Linked DNA regions of Homo sapiens. The protein of the gene in region 2 interacts with the protein of the main gene of each other region in a pairwise test. Each region holds a gene or a part of one and is shown on either strand. Other genes may lie near its edges.

What was found. Proteins that work in one complex are often made in the same cells at the same time.
Region 1: the proteins of NLK (region 2) and SDR16C5 interact in a two-hybrid assay, tested with the Homo sapiens proteins (one large-scale study listed by BioGRID and IntAct).

What each region holds. Positions count from the first base shown.
Region 1 is NC_000008.11:56,309,551-56,314,787, reverse strand, and holds part of SDR16C5 (epidermal retinol dehydrogenase 2), read left to right. Parts: intron 1-2,499; coding exon 2,500-2,631; intron 2,632-5,237. UniProt on the Homo sapiens protein: Oxidoreductase with strong preference for NAD. Active in both the oxidative and reductive directions. Oxidizes all-trans-retinol in all-trans-retinaldehyde.
Region 2 is NC_000017.11:28,185,046-28,190,282, forward strand, and holds part of NLK (serine/threonine-protein kinase NLK), read left to right. Parts: intron 1-133; coding exon 134-220; intron 221-5,237. UniProt on the Homo sapiens protein: Serine/threonine-protein kinase that regulates a number of transcription factors with key roles in cell fate determination. Positive effector of the non-canonical Wnt signaling pathway, acting downstream of WNT5A, MAP3K7/TAK1 and HIPK2.

The DNA.
Region 1 (5,237 bases), on a different chromosome or scaffold from region 2:
TTCCTTGCTAAGGTTTGCAGGTCCCTGGCAGATAAGTTTATGACTTTCAAGTTTGTCTTTACATTTTACCTCTCTGCCACCACCATCTCCAAACACAGGCTGCCCAGTACAGGCTGGAGATCCACACCTGACAAATTTGCTCGGGCCTACGCTGGGCCCACTCTTCCAAGCACAGCTGATCTCACAAATTCAGCTACTTAGAAGTTAAGCACTGATCACCTGGCATGTTGACTTACACTGACTACAATTTATCTGGCCAGCCTTAAGCAATAACCGGTTGATGTTCAAACGATGAAGATTGTTAGCTATGGGATAAACTAGTATGAAGCACTCTATAAATAATTACTTCCCTTTTCCCTGTAACTGTGATTTAGTTCTGCCCCAGGTGCTTGACTTCAGAAACAGCCAAACATGTCATATTACTAGCTTATTATTCAGGTTTTATCACTGTGGGGTCTTGAGGGAATTACTTATGTGCTCCTCTGAATTCAGGGGAAGGAAATTACTCCCCATCCTTATAAACCCACCATTTCCACTTTTTATTCTGGATAGAAAGGAAAGTACCAGATAATTTTTTTTTTTGAGACAGAGTCTTGCTCTGTCGCCAGGCTGGAGTGCAGTGGCATGATCTTGGCTCACTGCAAACTCCACCTCCCGGGTTCAAGCGGTACTCCTGCCTCAGCCTCCCAAGTAGCTGGGACTACAGGTGCACGCTACCACGCCCAGCTAATTTTTGTATTTTTAGTAGAGACGGGGTTTCACCATGTTGGCCAGGATGGTCTCCATCTCTTGACATCATTATCCACCCGCCTCGGCCTCCCAAAGTGCTGGGATTACAGGTGTGAGCTACCGCGCCCGGCCAATACCAGAGAGTTTTTAAGAAGTAGCCCTTAGACGAGCAATCAAAGAGAAAGCTTTCAGAGTGATATGACAGCGTTTTGTCTCTGCTGAGTCTCCAATAACTTTGAAAGCTTGTATCCCTAGGCCATAGCTTAGCCTTGAGTTCAGGAAGTCCATCCTTGGAAAGAAGAAAACCAGCCAGTTGATGAAAACAGGACAGGCAGATTCTAATCTGTGCTGTGTGTTTAAAATATATACAGTCGTGCACCATATAATGACATTTTGGTCAGTGATGGACCATATACAAAATGGTGGTCCCACATTATGGGACAGATTATTACAGTATTTTTACTGTCCCAATGTTCTATGATTAGATACACAAATACTTAACCAATGTGTTAACAGTTGCCTACAGTGTTCAGTATAGTAACACACTGTACAGGTGGGTAGCCTAGGAGCAATAGGCTCTACCATATGGCCTAAGATGTGTAGTAGCCACACATCTAGGTTTATTAAGTACACTCTGTGATCTTCACATAGCAACCAAGTCACCTAACAATGCACTTCTCAGAATGTATCTCCATTGTTAAGTGATTTATGACTGTACTTTCTCTTTTCCTCTATTTATTCCCTAATCCAGCCCCTTCTCCGTGTGTGAGGTCTTGATCTATGTCACATTTGGCTATAATGAAGCTATTCTTATGTCCCATCATATTGATTAAAATGAAATGCCACATACAGAGCACAGAACAAAGTTACTAACCACTGAGTAGAAGAACAGCTCTAACTGTAAACAGAAAGTAGCATTTTGAACATGGACTCATTTTAAGAAGAGAAAAATGGGAAAAGCACATCAAAACTTGATCTCTGGAGGTCAGGCGCAGTGGCTCATGCCTGTAATCCCAACACTTTGGGAGGCCAAGACGGGTGGATCATGAGGTCAGGAGATCGAGACCATCCTGGCTAACACGGTGAAAACCTGTCTCTACTAAAAATACAAAAAATTAGCCGGGTGTGGTGGTGGGCACCTGTAGTCCTAGCTACTTGGGAGGCTGAGGCGGGAGAATGGTGGGAACCCAGGAGGCGGAGCTTGCAGTGAGCCAAGATCGTGCCACTGCACTCCAGCCTGGTCGACAGAGCAAGACTCCATCTCAAAAAAAAAAAAAAAAACTTGGTGTGTGGTGCATTGTAGACTCAGCAATGGAAATAAACCAACCTGTATTTATTTCTTTATTTATTTTTTTAGATGCAGTCTCACTCTGTCACCCAGGCTGGAGTGCAGTGGTGTGATCTTGGCTCACTACAACCTCCACCTCCCTGGTTTAAGCAATTCTCCTGCCTCAGCCTCCCGAGTAGCTGGGGCTAGAGGCACGCATCACCATGCCTGGCTAATTTTTGTAATTTTAATAGAGACAGGATTTTGCCATGTTGGCCAGGCTGGTCTCAAACTCCTGTCCTCAAGTCACCCCCCTGCCTCGGCCTGCCAGAGTGCTGGGATTACAGGTGTGAGCCACTGCGCCTGGCCCCAAGCTGTATTTTTAGAGTGCATAAACTCAGTATGAATTAACCAGGATAAAAAAAACATAAAACTCTGGGAAAATAAAACCTAGCCCATGTAAGGAATTACTACATTGGTGGTGTTGCTCTTATTCAATTCAGGTTAAAAAAGAAGTCGGCGATGTTTCCATCCTAATCAACAATGCCGGAATCGTAACAGGCAAAAAGTTCCTTGACTGTCCAGATGAGCTTATGGAAAAGTCATTTGATGTGAATTTCAAAGCACATTTATGGGTAATAATTGTTTCTTCTCATCATAAATGTAAAATTATTCTGGCATTTGGAAGTATTTTCCTCTTGCTCTTTTACAATATTATTAGCCTCTAAGTAAAGCAGAGACTTCTCAGTTTTGGACTTGTCCTGTTCTACACAGTTGTCCTTTTCTGATGCCACTTAATCTACAGCCCCCAGGACCTCTGCTTAGGGAATTCTACAAGGACAGAACTGTCCTCATGGTCCTGCTACCATGTATTGATTAGCTGCAAATGTTAGGAAATACTCCAGGTGGCTCACATATTTTCCTTAAAACAGCTCGGTGAGATAAGGGATCATAGAACTTAAAAGATTTGCTCCAGGCTACATAGCGAGCAACTGCACTTAGACAGGACCAGGGTAGCTTTGTAATTTGCCTAAGCTGGGACACTTTTGGAAGTGAAATTCAGCATTATTAATGAGCAAGTGTTAATCAGGTCTGTTATGGGCAAACCAAAACCTATAGTCACCTTAGTTAGTACCCAACCAGAGAAATTAGAGGTTCCACTGGTAACCCAGGTTACCACCTGCTACCAGCGCTAAAAGCACAGTCCTGACTTCTAAAGCCACCCACTCAATTCCAGAAGTTGCATGTTTCTGGCCTTTGCTGAGACCAGCCATCTCAGGCCTCCCCACACTATGCATGCACCCTCTTGCTGCCTCTCCCAGCTTTTATTAAAAGTTGTATTTTTATTTTACTTTATCATTTTATTTTAATTTTTTGAGACAGAGTCTCATTCTGTCTCCCAGGCTGGAGTTCAGTGGTGTGATCTCAGCTCACTGCAACCTCCAACCTCCCGGATTCAAGCGATTCTCGTGCCTCAGCCACCTGAGTAGCTGGGATTACAGGTGCGCGCCACCACACCCAACTAATTTTTTGTGTTTTTAGTAGAGACAGGGTTTCACCACATTGGCCAAGCTGGTCTTGAACTCCTGGCCTCAAGTGTTCCGCCTGCCTTGGCCTCCCACAGTGCTGGGATCACAGGACTTTTGACCTGTTTGGTTCCAGCCCTGCTCGTAGCTCGTCATTCCTGGGCAAGGCTCTCTCTTGGGAGTCTTTGCTGGAGATTTCTGAGCTCCTCCTCCATTCTCCTCACACCTTTCCACCCAAGTCTTCTTTAGCAGCCTTCAAATGTAATTTGGAATTTGTAGATTTTCTGTCCCCTATTTCCACCAAAAATGTAATGGTGCTGGTGCTATTCTTGGTGTTTTGTAAAGTTTTCAGGAGAAAAATGGAAAGATTCAGAATTTAGTGGCTACCATGTTCCTACAAGAACTACTGCAAATGATTTATCTTGTCCCAAATGTCCCTCTCCTTGGTGCTTGCTTATACTCATATATAGTCAGAATGAAGATAAAGACCATGGTCCCTGGAAGTCTCCACTCCCATGGCTTTGTGTTCTTTTTCTTTTTTTTTTTTTTGAGATAGAGTATCACTTTGCCGCCAGGCTGGAGTGCAGTGGCGCGATCTCGGCTCACTGCAACCTCCACCTCCCGGGTTCAAGCAATTCTCCTACCTCAGCCTCCCAGGTATCTGGGACTATGGGCGCACGCCACCACACCCAGCTAATTTTTGTACTTTTAGTAGAGACAGGGTTTTGCCATGTTGGCCAGGCTGGTCTCCATCTCTTGACCTTGTGATCCGCCCGCCTCAGCCTCCCAAAGTGCTTGGATTACAGGTGTGAGCCACTGCGCTTGGCCTGGCTTTGTGTTCTTTTCCTACCTCTCTGTTTTTCCCCAGGTGCCTTCATGGTGTCTGTCTCTCTCTTTTCTTCTTTTCTTCTTCTTCCTCTTCCTCCTTCCTCCTCCTCCTCCTTCCTCCTCCTCCTTCCTCCTCCTCCTCCTTCCTCCTCCTCCTCCTTCCTCCTCCTCCTCCTTCCTCCTCCTCCTCCTTCCTCCTCCTCCTCCTTCCTCCTCCTCCTCCTTCCTCCTCCTCCTCCTTCCTCCTCCTCCTTCCTCCTCCTCCTCCTCCCTCCTCCTCCTCCTTCCTCCTCCTCCTCCTCCCTCCTCCTCCTCCTTCCTTCTCCTCCTCCTTCCTCCTCTTCCTCCTTCTTCTTCTTCCTCCAACTCCAACTCCTCCTCTACCTCCTCTTCCTCTTCCTCCTCTTCCTTCAGTGCTGGTGTTTCCCTGGCTCCTACCACTCCTCATGTCATCTCACTCCCTTTACTTCTTCTGGGCAAGTTCATGTACATTCTTTGAGCATCTGCACATTGCCAGGCACAAAGACAGTGACTTAACTGCTAGAGCGTCCAAGAGCTACCTGAAGGCTGGGCTCTCAAAGGCAGTGTCCCTACTGAGAAGTGTCCCAACTCATGGCAGACCCCAGAGTGTTTGCTGCACTGCTTCCTTTTGCTTTGTTTTGATTTCCCACCTCTCTCTACCTGTTAGTTTCTCTCTGAGACTTATTGCAATGCAGGCAAACAAGTGAGGTTTGGCCTTTGTAAGAGATCCCTTTTCTCACCTCCTTGTCTTTGGTGTGATTAGTTACTCCTTTGATGCAGAAGATGTCTTCCTTAAAAGCTCATTTCTGTCTCTTTTACCTTCTTTCTCCAGGCCCCCAATCAAGGGTGAAGGTGTTGGACAGAAT
Region 2 (5,237 bases):
AAACTCATTCTCCTTGAGTTTAGACACACATTGCCTTTTGAACTGAGTACTTACCTTATCATAAATTGGCTGTATTCCATAGCTGTTTACACAAAGACTCACTTAAATATTTGAATTTTTAATTTTTTCACAGCCATCTCTTCCTGTACTCTATACCCTGTCTAGCCAGGCTACACATGAAGCTGTTCATCTCCTTTGCAGGATGTTGGTCTTTGATCCAGTAAGTAGTGTTTTTTTTTATATATTTTTAATGAATTACAAATACATGTGTTCGAGAGAAACATTGTGGTTTTGAATAGATTGGCAATGTAAATAATTACTTTTCAGAATATAAACTTCAATCCCCAGTATCATGTGTATCATGCACGCTCATCACACAGAAGTTTGATTATTAACACATAAGAGTCTAAGGGAAGAGATAAGGAGCTGGATCTTATTTAACTCTTATTTCTTATTTATCTCATTATTTGTAAAAGGAGTTTGACACCAAGTTAAGTCAAGACAAAATGATTTTTTGTTTTGAGACAAGGTCTTGCTCTGTCACCCAGGCTGGAGTGCAGAGGTGTGATCTCAGCTCACTGTACCCTCAACCTCCCAGGCCCAAGCAATCCTCCTACCCGAGCCCCCTGAGTATCTGGGACTACAAGCATGCTCAGCTAATTTCTAAATATTTTGTAGAGAAGAGGTCTCACTATATTGCCCAGGCTGGTTTGAACTCCTGGAGTCAAGTGATCCTTTTGCCTCAGCCCCGCAAAGTGCTGGGATTACAGATGTGAGCCACCGCGCCCGGCCAGGACACAAAGTTTTTTAAGGTTATTTGAAAAAAAAATCTGACCATTATATTGCATAAGGAAATGTTTGCTCTGTGTTGTTGAGATGGAAGCTTTTCCCAATACCCTTTCTGGACTTGACTCTTCTGGAACATACTACAAATTATACTGTAAGTTCAGCTCTTCATTTATTCATTCATCCAAAGAATATTTATTATTCACATCTATGCCAATAACTATTGTCAAAGAAGACTTAAAAATGGAAGCATTTAGTAAAGAAAATTTAACTTGCCAAGAATACAAAGTCACCAAATACGAAAAATACCAGATATTTAAAAGATAAAACAACCACAAAATTACCAAAGTTATTAAGTTTACATTGGTCCATTTGTAGTGAGAAAGCTGCAACTTTCTCAGAAGATATCAAATTCACAAAGCTTCAGACATCAGCACAGCAAAGATTAGGGATAAAAATAATTCTGTTAAGGAGTTCAGGTTTGTGAGAAACAGTCAAGGTTTTTTTATTTGGGGGACCAGAACCAATTAGGGTGACCCAAATTATTTTTGTAATGTCTCAGGGTACAATTTAGATTGCTTATGTGTTTATTTTGGTGTTTTTTGCTGTTGTTTTCTTTTTTGTTTTTTTACTGTGGTGTATTAGTCTGTTTTTACACTGCTGATAAAGACATACCCAAGACTGGGCAATTTACAAAAGAAAGAGGTTTAATTGGACTTAAACCTTAAAGTTCCACATGGCTGGGGAAGCCTCACAATCATGGCGGGAGGTGAGGAGGAGCAAGTCATGTCTATATGGATGGCAGCAGGCAAAGAGAGAGAGCTTGTGCAGGGAAACACCCCTTTTTAATCTGGTCAGATCTCATGAGACTTATTCACTATCACGAGAACAGCACAGGAAAGACCTGCCCCCATCATTCAGTTACCTCCTAGGTCCCTCCCGTAGCATGTGGGAATTCAAGATGAGATTTGGGTGGGGACACAGCCAAACCATACCATGTGGTATGTGAAGTGCTTAGTGATACTATAAGCCTGACAAAGTGGCAGTTCTTGCTCCCACAGTCTCTCTTTGTGATCAAGTTCCCACTATTAAGGACAATTTCAATCATATAACTTGCTTTATTGAGCTAGTGATTTACTATCATTTGATATTTTGTGTTATTTGGTAAGTTTATCTACATAACTAACAGAAGATGTTGATCAATATGTTAAAAAACAAACTCCTTTTATATGGTTAACAAAACTAGAGCTGTGTGAAATTCAGGCTTCAGAGGTAATTTCTGTCTGACCATAGAGGATTTTATAAAGGGTCTAGGATTGAAATTTATGTGTTAGAAATATTTTATTCTCTATTTCTATTTAGATTTGGATCCAAGAACCATGTAACTCACCTCTACCAGGTGTGCATACACTGTTTAGAGCTGTAAGGCATCCTCTTTCTCTGAGATCCCATGTTTTGTTTGGTTTGGTTTGGTTTGGTTTGGTGTTTTTGAGACAGAGTCTCGCTCTGTTGCCCAGGCTGGAGTGCAGCAGCGCAATCTCAGCTCACTGCACCTCCACCTCCCGGGTTCAAGCGATTCTCCTGCCTCAGCCTCCTGAGTAGCTGGGATTACAGGCACGTGCCACCACACCCGGCTAATTTTATATTTTTAGTAGAGATGGGGTTTCACCATGTTGGTCAGGCTGGTCTCAAACTCCTGACCTCATGATCCACCTGCCTTGGCCTCCCAAAATGCTGGGATTACAGGCATGAGCCACCGCACCCAGCCTAGAGATCCCATGTTTATTAATGCTCCCGATCTGCCAGGAAGGTAGTGTTTACAGTCTTTAAGGCTGGAACTTCCTAAGCCATAGAGCAAGTAGTAAGCCCATTTTTCTGGGAGGTCTTTTGTACACAAGTTCTACATGTGACATGTAGTCCTTATTCCTTAACAGTGGGATTATCACACTTAATTAAATGAAATTTGTGGTGTAGTTGTAGTTATAAAGATTTATCTAAGGAGAAAGATTTATCTGGTAAGGAAGAGTATATATTCTTTTGGAACCTATGTAAGTAACTACATAGTCATTTAAAAATAAAGAAATTAGGCTGAGCATAGGGCACAGTGGCTCACACTTGTAATCCCAGCACTTTAGGAGGCTGAGGCAGGAGAATCTCCTGAGCCCAGGAGCTTAAGACCAGCCTGGGCAACTTAGGGATTACAAAATTAAAAATTTTTTAAATTAGCTGGGCGTGGTAGCACATGCCTGTAGTTCCAGCTACTCCAGAAGCTGAGGTGGGAGGATGGCTTGAACCCAGGAGGTTAAGGCCAAGGCCACAGTGAGCCATGAGCTCACCATTGTACTCCATCCTGGCAAGGGAGACAGAGGGAAACCCTGTCTCAAAAAGAAAGAAATTAATTTATTTAATGCACACTACATAATAATTAACCATTTTTATCACTGTGTTATAAACAAAGCCGACAAGTTTGTTACTTTGTTACAGAACTATTTTTAAATTAGCCTGATGCTTTATTAGCTTTTGATCTATATTAAGGATTTTTTTTATTTCCAGTTCTGAGAGTTCAATGAGAACAAGAAACCATTTAAAGAGAGGTTTGTTCTGATTTTAACCTGTTAAATTGAAAGTCAGCAATACATTAAGAAAGAAATGAGGTGTGTTTGTGTGTCAGGGTCTCACTGTGTGACCCAGGCTGGAATGCAGTGGCACGATCTCCGCTCACCACAACCTCCACCTCCTGGGTTCAAGAGATTCTCCTGCCTCAGCCTCCTGAATAGCTGGGATTACAGATGTGCGCCACCACACCCAGCTAATATATTTTTATATTTTTGGTAGAAACAGGATTTCACCGTGTTGACAAAGCTGGTCTCGAACTCCTGACCCACCTTGGCCTCCCAAAGTGCTGGGATTACAGGCGTGAGCCACTTTTTAAATATCCATGAAGAACAGACCATTGACCATAATTAAATCAGTGTATTTATTTAGTCCATTTAGTCTGAGGTAACTAGTTATTCTTGTTTTGTTGATCTTGGGTTAAGCAGTCTACTGCCATCACATGTCTGCTCCTGAACTGAAATGATGACTCAATTACTTGATTCAGTCTAAGAGCAGGTGTCTGTGGTGAGATACACATACACAGACAAACACAGACACACACACACACACACACACACACACACACGCTGAACATCCCTAATTTGGAACTTTGAGTGCCAACATGACACCACAAATGACCTGACCTCAGTGACAGGTCACCATCAAAAAGCAGGCATACAACACACAGTTTGTTCAGTATCCCCAAGGGAAAAAAGACCCCCAGCCTCCTTCAGCTGTGATTCTATCTTCCCCAAGCATATCCAGATTCCCCCATGCAAATGTGCCCACAAAGGGTAATAAAATGGCACATCTGCAGGCCAGATGCACCAATGACAGGTTCCCCACAATGTCCCACATGCTGCCAAGACCTATAGGCATTATTTACTGTATTTTTTGCCTATTCTGTGCTCTTTGGAGTAAAAATATTGTTGAAAATGTCAAAAAGTCCTGCAGATAACCCAGCAGGTAACTGATTTTTTTAAAAAGAGGAAGCATTTCTGTTTATAGCACAGAATGCCAAGCTATTGGAGAAACTGCACAGTGGTGTAAGTGTGAAGCATCTTACAGACAAGTATGTTGTTGGAATGATCACTGTATGTAACCTAAAGGAACAGAAGGATAAACCGTTGAAGTTCTGTCCTGAAACTCATGAACAGAAGTTAAAGAAAAATAGAAGGAAAGGGAAGCCAAGGGCTCAGAGAGGCCTGGGATCAGGCACATACACTGTCAGCCTACTTGTTCCTTTGGGTTCAAACAGTGGAACACTATCCCAGTGGAATCTCTAGGAATCGCTATCAAAGGACTCAGACTTTTTTAGAAAAAAAGAAAAGGAAAAAGTTTACTTGCTAAGAATGCAGGGAAGTCAGACTTCAAAAGAGCTAGATCACCAAATACAAAACATAAACTTATTGAAAGGAAAAAAAAACAAGGTTATCAAGTATACGTTTGCCTGTTCCTGGTAGATAAACACCCGCTTTCTTCTGTGATTATCTTATCTTGAAAGGTCATGACATGCCTTTTTACATCAGCATAGCAAAAATCAGTGATAAAAGTGTTTTTAGGGAATCCGGGCTTATGAGAAACATTTCATTATTATTTGGGAACGAGAACAGTTGTTTTTGGTTTATCTGAGAACAAAAGTGGTTTTCATTTTTAAATTGTGTAATGTGAAGAAGTGCTTGGTCATATTGGAATCAGGGCAAAGTGTGTGTTCTTGTTTTTGTTCTACTGTGTACTAGTGAGTTCATCCTTAAATCTTTAAAATTTACTTTCAGTAATACACGTATGTCTACTGAGCTAAAAGAAGGGACAATTTCTTTAATTTTTTCATGGAGTAATGTTAAAAGTTTAGATTT